Linked DNA regions of Homo sapiens: regions 1, 2 and 3 are each linked to region 4. The links come from fine-mapping of genetic effects on gene expression. A gene starts in region 4. Each other region holds a variant in brackets. All regions are shown on one strand. Distances are between the middles of the regions.

What was found. PIP is the estimated chance that this variant, and not a neighbour inherited with it, causes the effect.
Region 1: its variant is fine-mapped to the expression of PRR5L in whole blood (INTERVAL, PIP 0.90).
Region 2: its variant is the best candidate, but not a certain one, in a credible set for the expression of PRR5L in monocytes (Quach 2016, PIP 0.55).
Region 3: its variant is the best candidate, but not a certain one, in a credible set for the expression of PRR5L in whole blood (INTERVAL, PIP 0.51).

The regions. Positions count from the first base shown.
Region 1 is chr11:36,407,761-36,412,913 of GRCh38, reverse strand. All of the region lies in intron 3 of PRR5L (proline rich 5 like), which reads right to left. Among named protein-coding and RNA genes, the nearest start is that of TRAF6, 100 kb to the left of the region's middle. RefSeq lists an enhancer at 1,381-1,675. The variant G/A (reference allele first, on the strand shown) is at 2,330.
Region 2 is chr11:36,359,807-36,364,959 of GRCh38, reverse strand. The region is part of intron 1 of PRR5L (proline rich 5 like); the gene reads right to left. Among named protein-coding and RNA genes, the nearest start is that of PRR5L, 66 kb to the right of the region's middle. The variant G/A (reference allele first, on the strand shown) is at 2,702.
Region 3 is chr11:36,386,046-36,391,198 of GRCh38, reverse strand. The region is part of intron 1 of PRR5L (proline rich 5 like); the gene reads right to left. Among named protein-coding and RNA genes, the nearest start is that of PRR5L, 92 kb to the right of the region's middle. The variant C/G (reference allele first, on the strand shown) is at 2,800.
Region 4 is chr11:36,294,023-36,299,175 of GRCh38, reverse strand. It overlaps PRR5L (proline rich 5 like), which reads right to left and starts at 2,888. Exons shown (of 9, transcript NM_001160167.2): 1 at 2,738-2,888.

The sequences.
Region 1 (5,153 bases), 110 kb before region 4:
GAATCTTAGCCATTTACTGAAAACATAATGTTATGTGTTAGACATGGTTCTGGATGCTAGAAGAAAAGGATGAAACAGAGCTCAATGATTTCTCCTGGGCCCTATGAGAGAGTGATCTGGGCCACTCTCTTATAGGGCACAGGAGGTTCATCTTACCCAAAAGATGACAGTAAAAAATATCAAGGCATTAGACACCTAGGCCAAAATCACAATGGGACAATTCACCCTGTAGCCTGACTTACTTTTACCAATTTAATTTGTAAAGAACAAGAAAGAAGAGAAAAGCTGGAGAGAGACAGCCAAATTAAAGAGGCTGTGGTTTGTGGTTCCCTAGATGCAGGGAAGATGAAAATCCCGATTCCTAATACCTAGGCCATAAGCTCCTTTGAGGCTCAGGCCTAGAATCTGGCAGCCTTCCTTCCGCTTTTCCCACTCTATCCTAGGGTTGCTGCCCTGTCAACAGAAAAGCAATTACTTGTTAGAACAAACAATCATCATCATCATAACGAATAATAAACAAATTGCTCCTAGGATGGAACCCGGCATTTTTTTCTCCAATTAAAGTTTATTGAGCACTTGCTGGGTGCTGGACACCACTGTCAACAATGTAGGCGTTCCCACATTTAAGCCTAAAACAGAACTGTAAGCAGCAATAATATCCTCAATTTTAATATACAAGGAAACTGACCCAAGCAAGCACAGGCCAGAGATAACAAGTGTCTTGTTGAGATCAGGGAGCCCAGAGCTGCCTGGCTCTGCATCCTGGCAGCCACTTAGTAGCTGTTGTTAGCAATGACCCGGGAAAATTCACTGATTCTTCATACTTCAGTTTCCTCACCTAGAATGTGGGGAGGATAAGGATACCTACTTCACAGGATTACTGCACAAGTAAAATGGGTTAATCCTCATCAAATTGCTAGAACGCTGCCTGGCCCACAGCAAGGCTTGGCAAGCATGAGCTACTATGATTTCACCCAGGACTCTGAAGCCCTGGGTCTTGAAAACTCCAGCCCACTGCTTCTCGCATCTTCCTACAAGTATAGCCACACTAGCATTTCCTACACTGGGATTGAGGACCCAGGAGAAATTCATAAAGCAGGTAATATGTTAGGTAGGGCCAGACTAGCTGATGAAAGGATAAGAAGGTAGGAAGGTGGAGGCAGAGCTTTGGAGAAAAGAATTGCCGGGACGTGTAACTGACATGAAAGCAACCCCTCAGCCTCAGCAGCCCCCATATGCCATCTGTTTCACATATTGGACTTCCATGCCTGGTTTCATTTGAAAACAGAATTCTGCTGCTACCAACCACCACCACAAGCCACTGAGCTAGAAAAAGGGAAGCCGGGAGCTGAGGGTAATGTGAAGGGGACACTTACACGGGGCCTGACCAAAATGAGAAACTGGGCGTGAAGTTCAGCCAGAAGCCAAAAGGAGCCATAACAGGGGGAAAAAATGGGGAAGCACTGACTGGTCTACATTATCTCACCCTTTCTCCCTCCCAGGCTGACCAGCTGAGACACCACCCCAGTTGACAGGATTTCCTGTTATTACACAGACCTGCGATCTCACGCCTCACCGTCTTGTCAACTCAACTTCCCACTTCTGTGGGCTTAAAGGTAAAGGAGGCATTACTAAAAGCTGGAATCAAGCTGGTGGAGAGGCGCAGGGACAGCAGGATGGCAGCAGAGTGGGCAAGCGCGGAAGTGACAGAGGGAAATCACCTCGGATGGAGTCAGTCTGCCTTGCACACAGAGAAAGACCCAAGGTGGCAAAATCCCGCTGCTTGTCCCAACTCTCTTCCCACATGAGGTTAAAGACGATGAGGCAGCTTGCAAGAAGTGCTGCAGGTTAGCCAAGATGAGTTGGAATAACCATATCAGTAGTTAATATTTCTGCGCCATCTGGCAAGTAGGGTTTGCCCCAAGTTCTCTGGCCCTGCACCCTGGCCCTTTGGTGAGATCCGCCCAGACCGCCTCAAGATCCAGGAACAGCAGGGGTCCTCCAGAGTCCTGTGCCCAGTGCTGTAGCTGGTCAGTGCCCATCTAGCCTGACTGCTGAATGCTCTGAAATCACCCACCTCACTTCTGCAATAGGATATGTTTCAAGGAGGCAGCTTCTCTTAAGCAGGAACAGATAGAAAGGCCCCCTCCCCTTCTCTGGTCCATTCCATGGGAGCCCATGGGAGGTGGTGTCCTTGACTCAGGACATGGAGTACTCACACCCTTCGGGTGTCGGCATCCTAGTGGGTGGCAGTGGGAATAGTGAGAAACATGGAGGAAACTGACGAAGAGCATTTATTGAGCTCCTAGTTATGTGGCACACTATGCTC[G/A]GCAGTCTGCACACAGAATCTCAAATTCTCCAACAGCCTCACAGGTAGGAGTGTATCCTCATTTTGCAGATAAGATCGATGCTCAGAGCTTTGCCAGGGGCCATACATTGGTAGATCCCAACTCAAATGGAGGCCAACCTAATCAGGCAGTGGTACCCCCCATGCCACAGGGGCAGGCAGGCAAAGAAGGGAGGCAAGTGAGTGTGTACTGTAAGGACCAAGAAAGTCCCTCTAAAGCCAGCAGCCAGGCCTCAGCTCCCCTGACAGGCTCCACACCAGACCGTGAGTCCAGTGCCCAGATCTGACCTTTCCAGAGAGGCCGGAAACCTGGAGTTCTAGGTGAGATGTCCAGATTTCTAAACAACTTTTAGGCCAAACCACATGCGCCAACCCCATGGGTTTCCAATCTGCCATTTCTAACAACCCTTCTTAACCTGAAAGCCAAGTCTGTTTCTCAGCCACAGCAGGTACAAGGTAGTAACACATCATCAGGCAGAGTCACCCAGACCAAGAAGAGCCCTCATCTTAATCCCTCCAAAACTAGGCTCCTCAGAAGGGCAATGCCCCCCTTACCTCATGATCTATTCATGAACCTATGTCCAGGTACATCAAGCCCAAATCTGGATAATGCCAGCTCTGTGTGGCTCTTGCAGCCCACTTACTAAGGGTTTAAGCATGTGGGAGGCTTGGGTTCAAATCCCAGCTCAGGCACTTACTGGCTACATGACTCTGGGTGAGTTATTCCACCTCTCTGTATCTGTACTTCCTCCTTGTAAGACAGGGATACAGTATCTATCTCACAGGGTGTGGGGAGTTTTAAAAGAGTTGACACATATGAAGCACTTGGAACCTGGCATATACTAAAAGGCTAAGCAAGTGTCTGCAGTTATCATTACCTCGTGGCATCAGGCCTGGGACTGGTCTATGGCATCAGCCTGTGAGCTGGATCCAGGCTCACCTTCCTCCCGTCCCCTCCCAGCTCTTCCCCCCTACTGTGGGTCCCCCTCTCTTACAGTCAACACTCTGTTAAAGAGATGGAAAAATCGGAGGTGGATTTCCCTTTGGGTTTCAGGCAACCAACTGACTCAGAAGGAAGATATTTCAACTCAGACCTGTCAGAGATCAAACACAATTCTTGGAACCTCCTCTTTCCTTGAAAATCTCTGGGGTTTTCTTCACACCACCTCCCCCCTCCCAACAAGAACAGAAGCAGGGTGGTTGGAGAGAGAAGGAAAATGTGCGTTTCCTGTCTCAGGCCGGCTGCAGATAACTGATCTCTGGTTTCCGGAAACTTCATCTCTGAGCATTTATTTCTGCCGAGAAAAAGTCCTCCCAGGGAGTTTGAGGAGGCAGGAGGGCATGGAGTGAGTGGTGGTGGCAAGAACGTTAGATCCTCAACTGCCCTTTCTGCCTGCTCCCACTTCTGATTTCAACTTGGATATCATTTTCTCCTAGGTCTAATTGTGTGCCCATCCTCCACATGCCCCCAGCACTCCAGATTCCACCATCACCCCTCTAAAAGCGTTGCCTGAGAACTACCTGCCCAGTTCCTCTCTCATTCTGCTGTAAGATCTCCAAGACACAAACCACCTACTCAATGACCACCCCAGTATACAGCCCAGTACTGGGCAGAGCACTCCACATTTATTCAATAAATAAATCAATGAATCAATGGCCCCTGCTTCGACACACACACCCCAACACTCAAAGACTGAAAGCACTTATAAGAACATTGGCAAGCAGGTTCTTCAAAGAACCAGCAAACATCAGTCTTGCTTTTTTCACACTTTTCTAATTCTTCTCGGTTACATAAAATCAGTGGGAGAGGTGGCAGAAAAGACTGTTTAGGGAGAGTGTGCTCTTGTGTCAGCTTAGCTGCTCTTGTTCTTGGAAGGGCTCATGAAACCCAAACCTCTAACCCAGACTTTTCCTCGCTGCCAAAATGCAGCCACATCAGGGGTGAGGCTGGAGAGGGGTGTTAAAAACCGCACTAACACCCCATTGAGAATTCAAAACAAGAAGACTCCCAGAATCAGCCCGAACTCTGGCAGATGGAAATTTAGGGAAGCCAGAATTGTTGATTGGGATGCCTGGGGATTTAGCTAGAATACGTCTATTCTGAAAGGTCATTTTCTTGCCTTGAGAGATATTACAATGTGCAAGCTGTGCCTAAGGCAGTTTCAATGGGAAATATTCTGATTTATGGTTTTCATATCAATAGACCATGTGCCCTGACTTTTACATGGGACAACATTGGCCGCTATATTGAGGTGAGACGTTTCTGATGGATTTTTTTTTTTTTTGAGACAAATTCTCTCTCTGTCCCCCAGGCTGGAGTGCAGTGTGGCACGATCTTGGCTCACTGCAACCTCTGTCTCCCAGGTTCAAGCGATTCTCCTGCCTCAGCCTCCCAAAAATAGCTGGCTGGGATTACAGGCGCACACCACCACACCTGGCTAATTTTTGTATTTTTAGTAGAGTCAGGGTTTTGCCATGCTGGCCAGGCTGGTCTCAAACTCCTGACCTCAGGTGATCCACCTGCCTTGGCCTCTCAAAGTTCTGGGACTACGGGGTGAGCCACCGCACCTGGCCTGACAGATTTATTCTTAAAGGGTGGAGAAACCTGTCTTTGGATCCAATACTGTGTTTTAGAATTTGACCATCCTCAGTCCCAAGTTCTTCCTCATAATTACTTCAAAGTCTATCTGCTAACATTTAAACTAGAGTCTATTTTCAAAGACATGTCTTAAATGGAAAGGCCACTTATAATAATGACTGCATTACAAGACTCAGTTACATAAAACATCTACCTTCCTAGTCATCC
Region 2 (5,153 bases), 66 kb before region 4:
TCACACAGTGCCTCCTCCACTGAGCAGCCACTCAATAAATGTTCACTAGAGGAAGGAAGAGAGAAAGGAACGGAGGGAGGGAGAAAGGAAACAAATTGAGGTTTAGAGATGTCAAATTGCCCGACGTCACACCTTTAACAAGCAGGAAAGTCAGGACTCAAACACGGGAGAGCTGAGCTCTTCCACACCTGGACAGACTGCCAAGCTTCCTGCTGACTAACACACAGCCAGCCTCTAGGAGCTGGCTTGAGGTCCTGGCTACACTTGCTAAGGATGTTAGCTTTGGGCAGCTTGTAGCTTGTATAATCAAAACTGCTGTGTTTATATGGCACTTTTTTTGAGTTTGTAATAATGCAATAGGTAAAATTTACTGAGCACTTACTAAGCTAAGCACCAGGCACTATTCTAAGAACTTTACAAAGCTCATTCTCCATGACCATCCTAAGAAATAGGTGCAATTATAACCTACCTTACAGATGAAGACACCGAAGAGCAGAGGGGTGAGGTGACTTAACCTCTAATTAAGTGGTGGAGTCAGGACTTGAACTGAGGCAATTTGATCCCCAAATCTCTGCATTTAACCTCTTTACTAAATTCATTCCCTCTATCTAATGACAGACCTCACGAGAGAAGGAAAGGACAAAGGCAAGTCCCATTCACAGTTGGATAGTTAAATATGTGTATTAATTTAACCCCCAAAAATGTTTACTATGCATAGCTCTCAGCACATCACAAGTGTCAACTCATTAATTCTCCTAAAACATGAAACAACACTATGAGCCCAGTGCAATTATTATTATTTCCATTTCACAGATGAGGAAACTGAAGCACAGAGAGGTAAGTAACTTGCCCAAAGTCACACAGCAAATGGCAGAGCTGAAATTCACACCTGGACATTCTGCCCCCACTAGTCTGTGGGTTTAACCACCACAGAGTGCAGCCTGACAAGAACATGCAGGTGCCTTATTTAAAAGTGAAATACCCTCCCAAGACCAGTGGCTAAAAATGGTCTCTAAGAGGAAGGCAGAGCCATCTGTAGACCTGGAAATTAAACAGGGCCATGGAGCTTGAATGACTTAATCACTGTTCAATTTAGATTTCCTGGTTGAAAGGGTTCCTGTTCGTCCTACTGGAAATTAACAGCCGATTGCTTCTTGGCATTCTTGTGGGAGGGGTGGGCCATTTTCCTCTGGCCCAGCTGTTTCTGGAAGAGTAAGTGCCTTGCCAGTGTCAGGCAGGTACAGAAAGACTGGTAGGTAAAGGGGACCAGATCCCTTTGTCAAGTGAGCTTAGCAGAAATCAGTCAACTCCTGCTTTTTCTGCTGGTCTAGGAGCTGGGGCCCTTCCTCCACTCCTTGCAGGAAACCTGCCCGGGGGTTGATTCATCTCTCAAAGGCGGGTCAGGAGGAAGGGGAAAAGAAAAGACAAGAGTCAGGTCATTTATTATCAGAAGGGGCAAAAGAGCTTCTAAGGAAGCGGTGAGGAGCTGTAACCACAGCATCTGCAGAAAAGGCATTGAGCTATTAACAGTGAATTCTGCTTAGTACAGTCAATCTGTCCCCAGCTAATCTGGAAAGAAAGATATGAGCTCCCAGAGGTCAAGGAGTGATGTCTGCCCTCACACTTCGAAAGCACTCCAGGAATATATTTTAAATAACTTGTGTCATGAATGTAAGTTAACAGCAAAGAATTGGGCTTACTTTTCTCCTGGTCCATAAATATTTGCCTCTCTTTCTGTCTCCTGGTATGATGCAAAGAATGGTGTGTGGAATCTTGACCACAGCCTCATTCCCGGCCACTCTTTCCCTCTCACCTCATCCTATGCCCAGGCACACTGAGATGCCTGTGGTCTGGGAAAGGCAGTAGTTATTGCACACAGGTCGAGGGTGCAGAGACAAACCAGGCTCAGGCCTGGTCCAGTGACATAGCCATGTGAACCTGGGTGCACGACTTAACGTCTCTGGGCCTGGAGAACCTTGTTCTCTTTCTCCCCCTTAGAAATACCCACTTCCCCTGCAGGAGCCAGGTCAAAGGGCTGCCCTGCTCCTCCATCCCAGGCAGGCTGCCCAAGCACTCAGCACACACACCACCCCCCAGCCCCCACCCATGCAGCATTTGCCTCCTCTTGTTACAGTGATCAGTTTACCTGTCTGTCGCCACTCACAAATTATAAAATCAATGACAGCACATTATTTATCTTTGAATCCCCAATATCTAAGCAATTCCTGGGCTATAACAGAGAATCCATAAGACCTTTTATGGAAGGAAGGAGGAAAAGTGGAAGTGAGAAAGGAAAGATGGGTGGAGAGAAGAAGGGAGGACAGACATAATTGATTATGCTTTCAAACAGAAACAGCAGGCATGGTGTGAGAAGTGCTAGAAAAACATTCTTTCCCCAATATGTCAATTCTGCTTGCCCAGTGTCTAAAACGTCCTTTTTTGGAGATTTGTTCCTGGGGTAAAGATACTGTCTCCGGTTCTCCTTGTCATTGTTTCCCACCAACCACCGCCCCCGTCCGCCCACCCCCACCCCGCCAAGGGTGATGTGTGAAACTGTCAATAGCCCAGCACCTTAGCATTCACTTGCAAGATAGATTTTCTAAAGACAAGTGGGGAAAAGGCACGTCAGCACTTTGGTGCTAAAAGTGAAGGAATAGGGTCCTCAAAAAGGGAAGGGAGGGATCCGTTTCAGTGAGTCAGA[G/A]TCATAAGAATGAGAGCATGCGATTCCCATACCCACCCTGCCCTGCCCTCCCATCAGAAGCATTCTCCCTTGCCTACATCACTCGGAGCAAGTTCTGTTTTCAGGACGGAGCCGGTGACCGGTTCGCCAATGGAAGGCAGGAGTCTCTGGTGACTGCCTGCTGCTTCCGTGCTGACAGAATGTCTTTTTTTTTTTTTTTTGCCTTTTATGTACTCATTTGTTATTACTTCAGCACCCCCCGACTTTGAACTTGGTAAGGGAAAAGACTCTCTCTACTAGCATCCTCCAAACTGAAAGGACCCTCAGAGGTCACTTTATCCAACTGTGCCTCATGCTGGAATCGTCTGTATCACCTCTCCCAAGCCCCTCGAGGGAAGAGAGGCTCGCGATCTCTCTTTAACAGCCATTCCATTTTAGAAAACCACAAGAGTTAGATATAACCTAGAACCTGCTGCTCTAAAACAAAGGAGAAAAACAAGTAAAAACAAGTGACTTGTGTTAGGTCACACTTAGGAAAATTCTGCAGAAGTCCAAGGGTAATGAAAAAGGTTGTCTCTTTACCTCATTTTTTTCAGTAGACATTGATTTGCCCACATAAATGAACAAGTATAAGCAAACACACTATCGTTTGATCACATTCCCACAATGATTTCTTTCCTCTGGTAGAAACAGTAAATACCTAGAGATCAGTGACTCAAACTTTTTGAACTCAGTAACCCTTTAAAGTCTTAGAAATTATTATGAGCCTTAAAGTCTTTTGTTTTTATAAGTTATATCTGTTGATACTTAACATATTAGAAACTAAAACTGAGAAAATCCTTGGTTATTTATTAATCGATTTAAAAATAATTTTAAAAGCCATTACAAATTAACATAAGTAATGTATTTTTATGAAAAATAGCTATATTTTCCAAAAGCAAAAGGTATATATAGCAAGAAAAGTGGCTTTGTTTTTTATTTCTGCAAATCTCTTGAATATCTGGCCTAAGAGATCTGGATTCTCGTATCTGCTGTGCACTTAGTCTGTTGCAATACCAATGCCATGTCACCTCCGGAAAACTCCACTGTATACTTGTGTGAAAATCAGAGTAGAAAAGGCAAATAATATATTAATGTTGTTAGTCTTGTTAAAATAGTTTTGAGCTCATGGACCTCCTAAAAGGATCTCAAGCAACTAAGATGAGTTACATAGGTGGGGACCAGTGCAAAGTGAAAGTGCTGTTTCTTGTCCAAAAGTTATAAAGCATTTCAAGACAGCCACAGCAGAACATTGAACTGAGCTCTGAGCATGGGGCCCTGCGTGACTTCACAGTTCCTGCAGGCAACTTCAGGGGTCTCTGACCACATGTCGAGAACTGCTGCTGTAGAGTTATACTTGCTTCTTGAATCAAATGAGTGGCTTAAGACAATTAGTGTACACCAGGGTGATATCAAGTTAGGAGTGTGTGCATGTATGTGTGTTTGAGCTGCTGGATCACCAGGTGTAAGTGTTCTTGAGTAATAACATATACCTAACAAGATAAAAGCATGACTTACACAGATTTTCCCCCTGGGTGTATATCATAAAACCTTACCCTCTTATTCAGCCTATTATTCCACACTGACCCTAAACATACACACACACATGCATTTATGCATGCACACACATACGCCTTGAGCTGATGGCTTGCATGCATGTGGGTGTGTGTGTTACATGTGCGATGTTACATGTGCACATACCCCTTTGTGTTCCAAATGGCTGCACACCAGATAGTCAGATATTTGTCATGGTTTCCTGTTTTGGGTTTTTATTGGGTGACAGGCTTTGATCAGCAAAACTGACATCTCTCGTCCCCATTTTCCTGTTTGGTACCTTATACATAGTAGGCACTCTAAGCATTTGCTGAGTTATATTTTATAACTCTGGTGGTTAGAGAAAATTATGCTTATTAAATACTGTTAGCAACTGATGGTTAGCACATAGATATCCCATTTGATCCTCCTTCCTGAGAACTCAACACTTAGGGAGGTAACCATCCCACTAATAATAGGTAGACTTGTCCAGAGAAGAACAGTATGTCATTGTCATTCTACTAGACACAAGGTAGCAATATTTCATGATTCTCCTGAGATTCAGGCATGAATTTAGCTAATAAAGAACATAAGTTTTCTGTTTTGTGTGTCTGTGTGTGTGTGTGTGTGTGGGTGTGTGTGTATGTGTGTGTGTGTGTGTGTGTGTGTGTGTGACAGAGTCTCACTCTGTCGCCCAGGCTGGAGTGCAGTGGCATGATCTCGGCTCACTGCAACCTCTGCCTCCCAGGCTCAAGCAATTCTTATGTCTCAGACTTCCTAGTAGCTGGGACTACAGGCGCGCATCACCATGTCCAGCTGATTTTTGTATTTTTAGTAGAGATGGGGTTTTGCCCTGTTGGCCTTCAAACTCCTGACCTCAGGTGATCCACCCACCTCGGTC
Region 3 (5,153 bases), 92 kb before region 4:
GTGGCTTATAATAACTCTGAGGCTTCCAGGAAAAAGCCATTCTGAGTGTAAGTAACAAAGAAGTCAAAGAAAACAGCCATGCCATCTGATGTGCCTGCCTGGAAAACAAGGAGAAACTAGTTACCACGGAAACAAGAGAGATGGCCTCTTTTACACACAACCCTCGGAAGCTTCTGCAGTCAGAAAGCCCAGCGTGCAAATCCTTCCCTGGACCATGAACACAGGAATGACCCAATGTCCTTCCACACCACCAGGATTTAGATAATGATCGGTCAAACTCAACTGATCCATTCTCTAATTGCAGTCAGAATGGTCTTTCTAATGACAACCTTGATGATCATGATAGCACCATTTACTGACTGCCAACTGTGAGGCGGGCACTTGACATGTATTATCTCAGCATTTTAAAAATGAACTTAGAGGGTCTTGACTTTTAGTGAAATGGAATAGAAAATATCGGAGTGCATCACATTTGGAGAAAATAAATTTATTCATGATTACTGGGTTAAAATGCCTCATTTATTTCATACCTCATATGGCACTCAAAACTACATGAAAGCACCTGTTTGGAAGCACCTGTGTCTGATCTTACAACCACCAGAAGGCAGGTGCTATTACCAGCCCCAGCTTACAGAAAGGCAAATGGAGGTACAGAGTGTTTAACTTGTCTCAGGTAACACATCTCATGAGAAACGATGCTGGAACTAGAACCCAACAGTCCATAGCCCACAACGCTTATGTCACTCTTTGCTGCGATGCCTTCAACTGTTCCCCACAAGTCTTAGAATAAATTCACAAACTCCATCCTCACAGGCTCACTTCTCACCACTCTGAAGTCTGCTCATTGGCCTGCCTTCATGTCTTCCACCAGCACCTGCTCTGCCCCACCTCAGGACCCTTCCATGTGCTGTGGCCTCTATGTGAAATATTTCCCACCCAACTCTCCAGGTTCAAACCTGCACCCCCTTTATAGCCCACCTTCACTTGCTCAGAGACACCCTCCTTTCTCCTCACCCCTGATTAGGTTCCACCACCCCAGAGAGCACCCTCCCCACCTCCTTTGTCGTCTTGTCATAATCTGCCTTAATAAATGACTACAGAATTATTTGTTATAGGTTTGTGAGGCCCATAAGGGCAGGCACTGTCTGTCATGTTCTCAGGTACATCCCCAGGGCTTAGCACAGGGCCTAGTGAAGCAGGAATTCCACAGATATTCTCTGAATGAGTAAATGAGCCAGCTGTGTGTGAGGCATCATTGCTGAGAGACAGGAACCATAAGCAGGTGTCGGCTCAGAACATCAACATTTAAAATTACATGGGCATTTTGGGAGGCCAAGGCGGGTGGATCACCTGAGCTCAGGAGTTCGAGACCAGCCTGGCCAACATGGCGAAACCCCCGTCTCTACCAAAAATACAAAACTAGCCAGGTATGGTGGCGGGCGCCTGTAATCCCAGCTACTCAGGGGGCTGAGGCAGGAGAATTGCTTGAACCCAGAAGGCGGAGGTTGCAGTGAGCCGAGGTCGTGCCATTGCACTCCAGCCTGGGTGACAAGAGCAAAACTCTACCAAAAAAAAAAAAAAAAATACATGGGGCTTCACCATGGGTAAACACCATGGTACTGAAATCTGACTAACTTGGCTTCAAATCCAGCCTCTACAGCTTATTAGCTGGATGACCTGCGTATGTTCCTCATAGGCTCTGAATTTCAGTGTCCTTGTCTGTCAAATGGTTGTAATGCTTATGTGCACGTTGTTAAGATGAAAATGAGATAACCTAGATCACGGCCTCGCCCTGAGTAGGGGCGCAAAAAGCTATAGTTAGTATTAATATTTTTATACAACATTGTGTTCTTCACAAAACCCTCTTAGGCTTTGCAAGGTGATGGGTGGTGGGGTTGAGGGAGACAGGCACTTGAACGCATGGCTGGAGGGAGAGCAGTCTGAATTGACTGCTGTGGAAGGAAATGTGACAAGATCTACCGAAGTGACAAAGGCCATACCCTCTGACCAACAAATGTATTTCCAAGAATTTTATTCAAGGCACGTCAAGTGGCTTATGTAACATGGGTTTTTACTGCAGCCTTCTTTATAACAACAATGAGCTGGAAATAAGTGCTCACCAACAGGGAACTGGCCATATGTAAACTATGGTGTCCCATATACTGGAAGGTGATGCAGCTCTAAGAAAGAGCCGACCTTGAGCCGATCGTGGTGGCTTACGCCTGTAATCCCAGCACTTTGGGAGGCCGAGGCAGGCAGATCACGAGGTCAGGAGATCCAGACCATCCTAGCTAACACGGTGAAACCCCGTCTCTACTAAAAATACAAAAAAATCAGCCGGGCTTGGTGGCGGGCGCCTGTAGTCCCAGCTACTCCGGAGGCTGAGGCAGGAGAATGGCGTGAATCCGGGAGGCGGAGCTTGCAGTGAGCCGAGATCGCGCCACTGCATTCCAGCCTGGGCGACAGAGCGAGACTCCGTCTCAAAAAAAAAAAAAAAAAAGAAAGAAAGAGCCGACCTTGAATGAAAGAAAGGCTAAACACAGAGCCACGTGTACATTATGCTACCATCTATGTAAAAAGGATTAAAAAGAGCATTTACCCTTTTCACTGCATGTGCGTAAAATGTCTCTGGAAGGGCAAACCAGCAACAGATAACACTGGTTTCCCCTAGGGCAAGGAGCTGGGTAGCAGCGACACAGTAGGGAAGTCTTTTCTCTATAAGCCCTTTTGGACTTTTTGAATTCAGAAACATGAAAATGCCTTACTTCTTCAAATAAATAAATGTAAAGGCAATAGTGA[C/G]TCCCCTAACCTCCTTTCCCCAAAAGGAAGACAACAAATAAAGGTCATATGATTTCTTCAAAGTCACCCAGCTGTTAGGAGGAAGTCAGGATTCAGCTTCTGATCCCAAGTTGGGCTCTAGCAATGACAGTTCATTCATTTGACACCAATTTTATTTATTCAGCATTTATTTCACAATAGGAGTGACCCTGTGCAGGAACATATGGGCTAGCAAATAAACACTGGCAGGAAAAGTAGATGAAAGGAAGAACCAATTTCTTTTCTTTTTTCTGCGCTATGCATCATAAATGGGCCGAAAGGGCCAGGCTGGGACCAGTTTAGGGAGTGAGGCAGGTGTGGACAGTAAGCTTGCTTTACTACCAGCACCTGCCCTGGCTAAAGGAGGCAGCCATTACTCAATCCGATCTGGTGTTTGCCATCTTAGGATATAAGCCTGGTTTTGCCAGATCTGATTTTTCCCAAGAAAGTCCAAAAATCCAAATTTTTAGAAATGTGAAATCACTGGATTTGTAAGTGTTGGCAACTAATTCACCAGGCCAACCAGCACTTTGAAGGCCAAACATGTAGGTTTGTGACCTTTATTCTACCCCATCACAGCTACAGCCTCCAGCCTTCTCAGACCTTTTATGTGGAGCCTAAGCCAGGTATAAGGTAAGCCTGCACTAATCAGTCCCTGTGGCCTTGGGCAAGTCACTTCACTTCTCTGGGTCTGCTGACTCACCATTCAATTAATGGTTTGGCCCAGCTGATGGCCACGATGATCTTTCACCATCTCTGGCTGTGCATTCAGCCCCTACCCTGGGAGCCATACACACTGAGAACCTTTGAGAGAGGAGGCAGGGGCTGATACCCTAACACAATACAAACTCAGAACCATCCCTCAGCCATGTTTGAACTCCCACCTACCACATCATCTAATTCACCAGCCTCTTAACTTGGCAGCTGTCTTATCTCACTGTCAGCCCATCACCGATTTCTTTTTTTTTATACTTTAAGTTCTAGGGTACATGTGCACAACGTGCAGGTTTGTTACATATGTATACATGTGCCATGTTGGTGTGCTACACCCATTAACTCATCGTTTACATTAGGTACATCTCCTAATGCTATCCTTCCTCCTCCCCACACTCCACGACAGGCCCCGGTGTGTGGTGTTCCCCACCCTGTGTCCAAGTGTTCTCATTGTTCAATTCCCACCTATGAATGAGAACATGCAGCCCATCACCGATTTCTCTATGAAGTCTTATGTATGACATACTCCCCTATGTATTATATACACACCCAGATACAGGGTAAGCCAGCAGCACCCAAGGTACTGCTAAAGGAAACACACAGAAGGCAGAACCCTCCAAGCCAGCATAGGAGACTAGATCTGGACCCCACGCCTGCCCCTGCGCCAGCCCATTGGATGGAAACCAGGTCACAAGCAGATTTTCAAAAGTGGTGGGGCCATTTGGTCAAATCAATTGTCAACCATGACTATTTTATTACCATTATGACTGCTGATTAGAATAATATTAACTATCATCAGAGGCTGGCCATGATGGTCAGGACTGTGTCAAGCCTCCATTTGCATCTATTCCCTCAGTTAATTTCTACTCTAAACCAAGGAGGTAGGTTTCATTAGGCTCATTTTGCAGATGAAGAAACCGAAGCATAGGGATTCACTTGCCCAAAGGCAGAAGACTAGGAAGAGGAACCAAGAGGCAAATCCTGTGTGATTCCAGAGCCTGAACTCCTGACCCCTGTCTTAAACAATGCAAGTGTGTGCCACACACAGAGCCGAGAGATTAAACGCCACCCATTTCTTCCCTGCATAAACATCACCCATAGCTTCTTACCTTAGAGCAAGAGGACTCTGCCCCTCAAGCAAGGAGTCTCTGTTTCCTAGTGGCACCCACAGACCAGGCTGCAGTTGTTGTGTTTGTTTACTTGTTCAGTGTCTGATGAGCCCTGACAGAATGGAAGCTCCTTAAAGGCAAAAATCTTGCCCGTCTTGTTCACTATTGTATCCTGGTGCCTAGCATAGTACTGAGCACATAAAAGGTACCCAATAAATATTTTTATTTTATTTATTTTTAACGTATTTTTAATTAGTTTTACTTTTTTTTTCTAAGACAAGGTCTCGCTCTGTCACCCAGGCTGGAGTATGGTGGCACAATCACAGCCCACTGCAGCCTTGACCTCCTGGCTCAAGCAATCCTCCCACCTCAGCCTCCTGAGTAGCTAGGACTACAGGTGTGTACCACCACACTCAGCTAATTTTTTGTAGAGACAGGTCTTGCTGTGTTGCCCAGACTAGTCTTGAACTCCTGGCCTCAAGTGATCCTTCCATTGCGGCCTCTCAAAATATT
Region 4 (5,153 bases):
CCAGAGATGTACTGTGGCCAACCTCTGGGATGTGTAGGTCCTTCTGACAAGGACCACCAGGAGGAATGGAAATTTACCTTCAGAGAAAAGCTGACAGCACTTGTTGTGGCCTCAACTATCCTCCCAAAATTTATATGATGAAGCCCTAACCCCCAGGACCTTAGAATGTGACTGCATTTAGAAGCAGGACCTTTAAAAATGTGATTAAGTTAAAATGAACCCCTTAGGGTAGGCCTTAATCCTCTCTGACTGCTGTCCTTATAAGAAGAGGACATTTGCACATGCCAAGAGACACCAGGAATGCACACACAGAGGAAAGACCATGTGAGAACTCAGTGAGAAGGTGGCCATCCACAAGCCAAGGACAGAGACCTCAGGAGAAAACAAACCTTCCAACACCTTGATCTTGGACTTTTAACCTCCAGAACTGGGAGAAAATTAAGTTCTGTTGTTTAAGCCCGGGGCCCCCAACTCCCGGGCCATGGACCAGTACTGGTCTGTGGTCTGTTAGGAACCAGGCCACACAGCAGGGACAGAGAGAGCACGAAGCTTCATCCATATTTACAGCTGCTCCCAATCATTCACATTACCACCTGAGCTCCACCTCCTGTCAGATCAGCAGCAGCATTAGATTCTCATAGGAGCACAAACCCTATTGTGAACTGCGCATGTGAGGGGTCTAGTTTGCATGCTCCTTATGAGAATCTAATGCCTGATGATCTGTCACTGGTTCCCATCACCCCCATATGGGACTGTCTAATTGGAGGAAAACAAGTTTAGGGCTCCCACTGATTCTACACTGTGGTGAATTGTGTAATTATTTCATTATATATTACAATGTAATAATAATATAAATAAGGTTCTCAATAAATGTAATGCACTTGAATCATCCTGAAACCATCCCTACCCTGGTCTGTGGAAAAAAGTGTCATCTACAAAACTGGTCTCTGGTACCAAAAAAATTGGGGACTGCTGGTTTAAGCCCCTCAGTCTGTGATATTTTGTCATGGCAGTCCCAGCAAACTAATACGGCACTGCTTAGATGCCAGGGAACTAAGGAAGGAGTCTTATTAGGCAACCAGCTTCAAGGGACCAGCAACTCAGAGATCCCCAAAGATGAGAAATAATGGTGCTCTCTGAAGTATCCACAAGATTGTGCCTAGAGAGAAAGAACTAGGTTTACACACCCACCAGAACCTGCCACTGAAATGCCAGCTTGCCACAGCATTAACCAAGTACGGACTTCCAGCTCCTTTCCTGCCTCTTCTCTTTTCCCCTTCCCCCTGCCAGGAGTCAGAATCATCAGTAAGCCAGAGGAGAGAAGGATGGAAGCTTAACGTGGGAAATGAGAAGCCAACCACAGACCCCCTTTCCAAGCTGCAGGCCCCACTGGAGGAGGGAGAAAAGTCTCCACTGGGAACCAAATTCAAAGATCTGGCTGATTCCCTGGGACTGGACATCCCAATTGCTGAATGAGGCTGTGCTGGAACTAAAAGCGACTTAAGAACTTTTGATTCCTGAAGGGGGCCCATAAGAGTTGTGGACCTACCTTAATTTTCATCCCAGGGCAAGGGAAGAGGGAGGACCTGCTGAAAAAAATTAGGGACAATGATAGGCAAAAATAAAGTTTGCTTCCATAATATACCATGAGTCCTGTGTATTTGACGTATGTTCTCTTACATATGAGGCAACTTAGCCTGGTCTCTGGCCAAAAAAGAGATACCACTCATTGAGCAATTCTTACCCTTTCAAATTCCTTCACTGTCGTCATTGAGCAATTCCATCTTCTTCAAGCAAGACAAAAGCTGATGCCAATAGAAAAATCATTTAAAATAAACAAACGAAAAAATTCCTTAAGCTGTCAACTTGGGTGCAGATGTTCTATGAAGCCAGAAACTGAATGTCACCCTCTATACACCATGACCTAGAGAAGCAGAATAACTCCAGACCAGCAGGGCTGGGCGGGTCTAAGATTCCCATACTACTTAAGAGAAAACTGAATTCAAATCCAGGCTCTGCCATTTAACAACTGTGTGACCCCGGGTGAATGACTTAAATTATCCGTACTTCAATTTCCTCATCCATAAAATAGAGATCATAAAGTATCTATCTGATGAAATAGCTGCAAAACAGTTAGAATGCTGCCTGGCACAGGGCAAAGGACTCACAATACACATAGCTATCATCATATATCATTGCCTCTCAAAGTGAAATATTGTGATGACCTTGGTTTATTAGCAGGATGTTGTAAAAAAAAATGCTTTACAAGGGGCATGATGACGAAAAGCGCAGATTCTAGAACCCGACTCCCTGGGTTTGAAAGAAGCAAGAATCTGAGGCATGTTGTATAAGGGTTTGCTATCATTACTATTCATTCAATGAGAGACATACAGTAATAGGTATACATATGCAATACATAGAGAAAGAGCTTAGTACTAGCAGCTATTATTAAGGCAACAGCCACCTCAGTAAATCTACATGGGCCATGAAGACCCTGGTCACCCAGAGATATCAGAGGCACTGAACAGGGCCAGACAGACAGAGGGTATTTTTCTAACTGGGAGGCTGCTGAACTTGACCTCTGTTGCTTTTCATTATTTATTTAACAGCAGATGGTGGCTTTCAAGAAAATCGGATGTCTTGAAGCCAGAAACCCATCCTCCTTGGGCTGGATACTCAGCCATCCCCTGCAACCCCACCCCCTAGCCCCAAGCTCTCATTGTCTCTCTTGTGTTACCTGGTCTGGTTTCTTCTTCCAGGGCAGGTCCCACCTTGCTGGGGAGAGGTGAATGACCATGGCCTTCCAGCCTCCCGAGAAGGGGATGTTCCAACGGGCGCAGAGATCTCTGGGCCTGGCTTGCCACTCACTGACCTGGGGCCTGAAGACTGACAGAGAAGCAGGCAGAAAATATAAAAAGCTGATACCCCCTGCAGGAAATCATTGTTTAGCCCATTCCAGACTAAAAAAACAAGTGCAACATTGGAGAAAGGAGGGTAAAGTGTCATTCGGGGCCATTGTTACAGCGGCTGCTCTGTGTGGTGGGGAAACAAAGCAGGCCTGTGTATGTGAGGACAATGCTGTTGTGTTACTAGCTGCTTCTGTGTTACTCCTGGGGACAGGAGGATGAGAAACGAGGCCACAGTGTCTTCCCTGGTGGACTTCACTCATCATAGTAGCCAGGCCAATCAGAGCTGGGAGAGGAATTTTGGACATTTAGCCCATGGCATTATGTAATAAGGGTCAGGGGACGTGCCTTCAGGTGTGACCACCTGCCTCTTTGTTAGTCTTCTATACATGAGAGATCACAAATGTCCCTCTCCTTTTCTCTTACTTGCTTTCAGAAACTTACCCCAAGTTAGAGCTGAAAAGAATGAGACATATCATTTCTCTAAACACAAATGTCATCCACTTCAATGCCTAACTTTTGTGATGGGACATCTGGCTGGGACTAAACCTCAGCCATGCAGCACGTTAGCAGCAGTTGGCAAGACTAGATGAATATTATAAAGCTTGCACCCACTGAACCCCCATAATGAACCAGACACTAGGTCATGAGCAACCTTGCAAAATGACCTCATTCGCTCCTGACTTCAAATTCTGACTCTGCAACTATTACCCATGGACTGTGAGCAAGTGTTTTCTCTGGGTGTTAGTTTTCCCATCTGTAAACCGGGATTATGATTGGGTTCCTAGGAGGATTAAATGAATTAATATATGCAAAACTCTTAGAACAGTGGCTGGCCCATAAAAGTGATCAAGAACCACAAATCACAAATTAGATGCCCACATTACACCTGAAACTTGCTTGTACTCATGAGGAGATGGTATGGGGATGGCTGGAAAGCCAGGATCCCAAGTGTCTGTATTTAGCCCTGTTACCTACTATGGCCTAAGTTCACCCTGTTAGGTCCCTGAAGGAATTGGGCACTAATAAATATTCTCAAGTATGAGACAGGTGACAAATGTGTGGAGAGGGCCCACTGTGATGCAACAGTGTGTGGCGGGAACTGTGGGGATTTGAAAGCTCACACCAGTCTTCAGAGGGCAGCCAGGGCTCAGCCTCAGCCAAATACTGCAATGCAGAAAGGTGGAAACAGCATGGTTGGGCCTGCACATTTTTAAAGAAAAGCCAGAAGGCTGGATTTTTTATGTCGAGTTTTCCAATTTTGAAACACTGTGGACCAAACACAACATTGTTAATGCAATGTGAGCCCTAGATCATGCAGTTTGTGATGCCTGATCTGGAAATTTCCAGATTTCCAGCATTTCCAAGCCAGTGCAACCCTGCTGACACTCAGAGCTTTTGTCCCCAACTTGCGCTACGGTCTGAGTGTATGCGTCCCCCACAAATTCATATGCTGAAATCTTCACCCCCAGGTGATGGTATTTGGAGGTGGGACCTATGGGGGGTGATTAGGTCATGAGTGTGGAGCCCTCATGAATGGGATTAGTGCCCTTATAAAGAGGCCCAAGAGAGCTCCCTTGCCCACAGCCACCATTTGAGGACACAGTGAGAAGACACCATCTGTGAACCAGGAAACCGTCCTCATCAAACATAGAATCTGCCAATGCCTTGGTCTTGGACTTCCCAGCCTCCAGAACTATGAGCAACACATTTCTGTTGTTGATAAAGCCACCCAGTTTATGGTATTTTGTTATATTAGCCCATATGGACTAAGACGACTGGTGAGCTGATCAGGCCACGTCAAAGCCACAAAGGGGGCATAAAGTCAAAAAGATTGATCAGCCCTTTCCCCCTGCAACCCACCCTCATCTCTGGACTGAGACAAAGGTGAGGAAAAGGGAAACTAGGGGAATAACAGGAGGGTGGCAAGGGCTCTCCTTAAAGGACTGCAGGACCCTGGGCCTAATCCACCTCCTGCAGGCATTCCTCTGACAAAGAAGGCAGCCAGGACTTAGTAGTGAAACCAAAGGGGAGAATAGGAGTTTATTTAAGCTTCCATAACCTTCATCAGTTACCTCAAATGAACCAAAGTAGCGTAAGTGACAAAATGTGTTTGCTATGCAAATGCACCTTAAAAACAAGACTGCTCACAATGAGATACCACTTCATACCCGCTAAGATTGCTATAATCAAAAAGACAGAACCAGTTACAAAATGTGTTTGATATACCAATGCAACTTCAAAACA